Homo sapiens: one gene and its partner. The protein of the gene in region 2 purifies or fractionates together with the protein of the main gene of each other region. This does not show direct contact. Each region holds a gene or a part of one and is shown on either strand. Other genes may lie near its edges.

Region 1 (3,583 bases), on a different chromosome or scaffold from region 2:
TTCCAAGTAGCTGGGACTACAGGTGCGCACCACCATGCCTGGCTAAATTTTTAAATTTTTGTAGAGATGGAGTCTCACTGTGTTGCCCAGGCTGGTCTCAAACTCCTGGGCTCATGTGATCCAACTGCCTTGGCCTCTGAAAGTGCTGGGATTAGAGGCATGAGCGACTGCACCCGGCCCCAGCCTCTCTGTTGTTGTTTTTGTTGTTTTTGTTTTTGTCCAGAACCCAAAGGGAAAAAAACCTCAAGGGGGCAGCCCTTCCCTTGAGCAGCAGATGCTGGCTCAGTGGCCAGGCTCTATGCTGAGGACACATTCGGAAACGGCCTGATACTTGCCGTCCGAAGCAGAATTTCAACTTGAGAGAGGCATGTCCCCTTAAGTGGGTGAGGGGCATTCCAGAATCTTCCAGGCTGGGTGGGGTGGGTACGTGGAATTTGAAGACGCACATTATTACAATTTTTCTATTTGGGAAATGGGAAAAGCACTTCGTGGAAATTACCAAACATGAAGTTTGACAGTTCTTGCTTGGGGGAAATACATGTAAGATGTAGCGATTCGGACCTTTCTGGTGATCAAAAGCAGACCCGTGTTACACATGGTTGGGGAGCACCGTCTGGCGGGAGAGGCCCCGGTGAACACACAATCCTAGTGTGCGGTGGTGAGGCAGCGGTGGAGGGAGGGAGGGCAGGCGGGGGTCCTAGAAGGGGAGCCAGGAGGGTCTTTGTGGGCAGCTACGGAAAGTGTCACAGTGGAAGCGACATTTGATAAGGCCTTGAGAGATGGGTAGGGATTTCTCTGTGGGATAAGGAGGTGCACGGCTATTGCAGGCAGAGGGGCCAGCCTGTGCTCAGAGCAGGCCCACAGAAAAGCCTAGCATGTGGGCACAGGAAGGAGGTGGGAGAAAGGGGTTGACAGCTTGCCAGGTGCTTCTGGGAAGGGCTCTGGTTGAATGACCCAGGGATTTAAATGAACTTGATACCTGTTTTCTAGTTGTCTGATTCAGCATGAGTTCCTGATGTTCAATAGGGATACATTTGGGGTCAGGAATTCTCCCCCAGTTGAGAAAACTGGACCAGATGCTTGGAGTCAGGCCTGGGCCTGGCCCCTGGTTCAGTGCTGGCACCCCACTGCCCTGCGGGAGAGTCACGTTTCACACCCTGGTGTGTTTCAGGGCCCTGCCGAGCCTGGATATCGTAGTGTGGTCGGAGCTGCCCCCCGGGGCGGGCTTGGGCTCCAGCGCCGCCTACTCGGTGTGTCTGGCAGCAGCCCTCCTGACTGTGTGCGAGGAGATCCCAAACCCGCTGAAGGACGGGGATTGCGTCAACAGGTAACCATGGTCCTTACCTGGCCAGTGTCCCTCCCGCACGGCAGGACAGGGACGTGGCTTCTCTCACTGAGACCTCACCACCTCCCTGTGAGGTGAGAGGTGTCATAGTGGCCATTTTAACATGAGGAAGCTGAGCCCCGAGAGGTCAAATGGCTGGCCCAGGGCCACACAGCTAGTGCTGGCAGAGTGGGATTTGAACTCAGAGTCTGAGCTTTTCTCTCCTGCTCTCCACCACCTCTGCTCACCCCCATCTTGGCTCTGTTGGTTTCAAGCGCCCATGGTATGGTAGAAAGAGCTGGAGTCCAGATCTAGAGGGCAGCAGGTTAGATGAACCCTCCCACCTCTGCATTGACTCAGGCTAGGACAGTGTTCTCCTCTGTATGGTAATGACAGTGCCCTAGGGGTGATTGTCCAGTTTTACCACATGGTTATGAAAGAAACTAAGAGTTTGCTGAGAAATCCACATTAGGGGGTGTGCCCATTAGACTAGGGCATCTCTCCTCCTACGGGGCCGTCTCCACGGAGGGCGTGTCACCTCTCTGCGTTCCTATTGACCACGTGAGTCAGTGAGGCCTGTCCAGACAGGCTTGACCACAGACCATTTCTATCATTAGGAGAATGTTCCTTGAGAAACCACCCAGTGCGCAGAGGTTACGCAGTTTGTCCCAGGACCAGGAGTTGTGGATGAGGCCCCCAAATGCAGAGCTCTGTCCTCTTCCTGGGCTTGTTTTTGTTTTGTTTTGTTTTGTTTTCTGAGCTTGGTTTTTTTGTTTGTTTGTTTGTTTGTTTGTTTGTTTGTTTTTTGAGATGGAGTCTCGCTCTGTCACCCAGGCTGGAGTGCAGTGGTGTGATCTTGGCTCACTGCAACCTCTGCCTCCAGGTTCAAGTGATTTTCCACGGGCCAAAGGACTGGCCCTGTCTTTCAAAAGGTGGAGGGTGACTGTGTGTGTGCACTTGCATGTGTGTGTGTTCTTATGCTGCTTCTAACCATTTCTCCCACCTTCCCCTGAAGGCCAGTCATTCCTTCTCAGAACCCTTAGGGAGAGTAGACCTCCCACCCCACCCCACCCCACCACACCCCACCCATCATGTGTTTCTGAGTCGGAAAGGACTGGAGCCCAGTCTCCTTTGAAGACTCAAATCTGAGCCCCCTAAAAAACAAACTGTGTAGAGCAGGAGGAAGACTCACATTTGTTGAGAGGGCCAGGCCCTGGGCTAGGTCAGCTGCCTGAGTTACCTTCCCCCGCCTCCATCACTCACTTCATCCCAGGCACGCTGCCACCTGTTGGTCCCTGGGAAGGGCCAGCCAGCTCTGGTGTGGTTCCAGTGCTGCACAAGTGGTGTGTCTGGAATGCACCCCACACACACACCTTGCCCAGCTGGCTCCCCTTGTCCTTCAGGCACCACCACCCCGCCCCAGCCCCCAGCAATTCAGCCCATCGTACTCTTACAGAAACACCTGGTTTGTTTTTGTTTTTGTTTTTTTAACTATATTATCATTTATTAAATGTAATTAGGTAGCTCTGGATCCTTGGTCTGTTTTTTTTTTCTTTTATTATTATTATACTTTAAGTTTTAGGGTACATGTGCACAATGTGCAGGTTAGTTACATATGTATACATGTGCCATGCTGGTGTGCTGCACCCATTAGCTCATCATTTAGCATTAGGTATATCTCCTAATGCTATCCCTCCCCTCTCCCCCCATCCCACCACAGTCCCCAGAGTGTGATGTTCCCCTTCCTGTGTCCATGTGTTCTCATTGTTCAATTCCCACCTATGAGTGAGAATATGCGGTGTTTGGTTTTTTGTTCTTGCGATAGTTTACTGAGAATGATGATTTCCAATTTCATCCATGTCCCTACAAAGGACATGAACTCATCATTTTTTATGGCTGCATAGTGTTCCATGGTGTATATGTGCCACATTTTCTTAATCCAGTCTATCATTGTTGGACATTTGGGTGGGTTCCAAGTCTTTGCTATTGTGAATAGTGCTGCAATAAACACACGTGTGCATGTGTCTTTATAGCAGCATGATTTATAGTCCTTTGGGTATATACCCAGTAATGGGATGGCTGGGTCAAATGGTATTTCTAGTTCTACATCCCTGAGGAATCGCCACACTGACTTCCACAATGGTTGAACTAGTTTACAGTCCCACCAACAGTGTAAAAGTGTTCCTATTTCTCCACATCCTCTCCAGCACCTGTTGAGAAACACCTGCTTTGAAGTCACATATTGCAGTGTCATGGATT
Region 2 (2,875 bases):
CACTGCACTAAAACTTACTTACTCCAGGAAGTTCCTGTCAGTAGCATAGTACCTCTCTGTAGGCTGAACTCTAAACCAGTTGCAATGAGTTACCTTGTCCCTCTGAAAAGTTAAAATTTCAGTATGTCCCATACCGTTTACTAGCAAATAAAATTTTCTGATCTGTAAAAACACACATATACTATACTACTACTGAAAATGGTTTTACACATGACAAAACCAGACCTGATAGCTAAATCTGCATACTTTCTATACAGAAATAGTATGTATTATATGACGTTGGGTCTAAATCTGTATTTTGGCAGTACTTAAATATTTTAAGTAAGTATTTCAAAGTATTATTTTATAATGCATCTAATTACTGACCTGTATGCAGTCATTTCTGAGGCTTTCTTGCATCATAGCCCCTGTGACATTTCCTCTTAGAAATATTACACTCTACAAAATTGTTTTATCAAGGTCCAAAATTACTATTTGCTCATAGAGTACAAAGATGTTATGACTGGCTACACAGAAAGGAAATAAATTATGAAATGTCAGTATAGCAGCTGAAATTATAGCAGCTGAAATAAACAGTTTGTATTATACATTTTATTTACCTGATGAAAGCATTTAGGACTCAAATCTTTAGAGAATATATAATAATAGCCATATCCTTTTAATTAATAAAATAACACTTTAAAGACAGGCATATTACCATTGTATATGACACCTAATACACATTGTCAGATACCACATAAACATATTTATCTTCCAATACCAATGTTTGTTTTATTAAAACAATAATTAATTAATAGGCTCAATAGTGACCCTCAAGTTAATCCCATGACTTCCCCAGGCTCTGCATGCATAAAGAAATCATTGTGACAGAAAAATATCAACCACATACTGAAGCATAGCTTGCTAGAACAAATCCTGTACATATGAATGCCAGCAACTGGGGACACATTTAGTATTCACATTTTATGCAAACTTACTTGGTCAATTATTTCTTTTTTAAGCACAGGTTTATTTTGGAATTCAGATAAGAACTGACACATCATAGACAGTCATTGTTAAGGTAACCCTGTTATTTCAATTGCAAACAAACAATAAACGTTTTTTCTTCAAGACAGTTACCACTTTTTAAGATCTTAGTACTACCCTATGCAAAAACAGTTTTTTTTAAAAGCCTGAACAGGTTAAGATAGATAATAGCCAACTATGTTTTCTCAGGTGAAACTATTCCAAAAGAACTGTACATTTCAGTGATATAAATCAGATCCAGAAAGGTGGATCTCTGTTTAGTTCTTGAAATATATAATTCACAAAATAAGACCCTTGTTGTTCTACAGAGGTCCCCTAAACTGTCTTTTATTCTGGTGTAGTCTCTAAAACCTCATTAAGAGGGAGGGGAGAAAATTTAGTCTTACCAGAAATGCTCTGCTTTTTAGTAGCCATCAGTTTTAGGTCTTCTTTATGTAACTCAGAAGTTCATCTTTTTCCATTTGGTAACCACTTTTTTTCCACTGTTCTCGCAACTGTTGTAATAGAGCCCCAATTTCTTTTCCTGAAGAAATGCCCACTTTTCTGATGTCATGGCCACTTACAGGAAATGGAGGAATGGACCACTGCTGCATTTCCTTTAGGAGACAGTGCTCTCCTTGGTACTTCAGTAGTTCACATACACGAGTAGTTGCATCAGGTTCCCTAGACTACGTGTCAAAATCAAACATTTAGTTTCGTCACACATGAAAACATACACTTACAATCTTATCCTAAAATTTAAATACTCAACATAAATTTTTTCATTTAAAATAAGTAAAATTCACAGATTTGTAGATCTTAGTTTTAATAAATTAATTCTAAATTCGTGACGATACTTCATATTTCTGACCAAGCCTAGTATATACTTACATCTATAATGAAGTCTTGATAGGGTTTCAATGGGTCTGAACTATCTGTTGCTTTAATTAAATCTTTCCTATTTTTAACTATAAATAAGCCAAGGTTTTTCTCCTCTTTTGCGATCTTCAACCTCAAATCCAATTTTGTGACATCATCTTGTACTTTGAATAATGAGGCCAAAAGAGTCACTGGCTTTGGTGAAAAACCATCAACATTTTTACTGACTTTGTCAAATTCTTCTAAACTTGCATTAGCAGGTAAACCTGTAGGGACAAAAGCATTTTTCACCTGTTTTTAGTGGGGATAAAAAACCACTCATATCCTAAACCTTGCCACCATTTTAGTATCCAGAAATGCTTTGTCACTAGGATACATTATATAGGTTCAGTCTGATGTTCCAACTTAAAGGCGAACCACTAATATATTGTTATTCTCTCCCCTGTCACCTTCAAAACCTCTAAAATGTTCTTGTTTCCATTAAAGCTACATCAAGAGTTCCAGGGGTAGTGGTGACAGTGGTGTCAGACTCACAAGGCATACTCTTTCTAATCACAAATTCCTGACTTTACACTGATACAAGATCCACCCCCCATTCAGTAATGTTACTGAAATTTGAAATATGCCCAAGCTTACCGAAGTGTGATAAACCATATAATCCCACTATTCTCTGTGAAAATGAATTACAACGTTTACTGAACAATTTCTGTGTACAAGTCACTCTTCTAAAAGAGCTTTACATGTATTAACTCACTGAATCCTTTTAGCTTTCCTATTAGATAGAGGCTACATTACTTTTAAACCGCTTTTTTGGGTTAGAAACTAACCCAAGTTGCAAAGACTAGATAAGGGGCTGAGCTTCCTTCAAACCTAGGTCTGACTAGAGACTACTCTACAAGCACCACAAGCTGTCTTTGAGCTCTTCCCTACTCACGACAAAACTTACCCCATAACCCAAACTTTGTCTTATTTTAAAATACTCCATTTCTCC

The links.
Region 1: the proteins of TRNT1 (region 2) and MVK purify together in Homo sapiens (affinity purification with mass spectrometry; one large-scale study listed by BioGRID and IntAct). This does not show direct contact.

Annotation. Positions count from the first base shown.
Region 1 is NC_000012.12:109,580,224-109,583,806, forward strand, and holds part of MVK (mevalonate kinase), read left to right. Parts: intron 1-1,171; coding exon 1,172-1,327; intron 1,328-3,583. UniProt on the Homo sapiens protein: Catalyzes the phosphorylation of mevalonate to mevalonate 5-phosphate, a key step in isoprenoid and cholesterol biosynthesis.
Region 2 is NC_000003.12:3,146,725-3,149,599, reverse strand, and holds the end of TRNT1 (CCA tRNA nucleotidyltransferase 1, mitochondrial), read right to left. Parts: intron 2,151-2,875; coding exon 1,897-2,150; intron 1,695-1,896; coding exon 1,446-1,694; 3' UTR 577-1,445; downstream 1-576. UniProt on the Homo sapiens protein: Nucleotidyltransferase that catalyzes the addition and repair of the essential 3'-terminal CCA sequence in tRNAs, which is necessary for the attachment of amino acids to the 3' terminus of tRNA molecules, using CTP and ATP as substrates. tRNA 3'-terminal CCA addition is required both for tRNA processing and repair.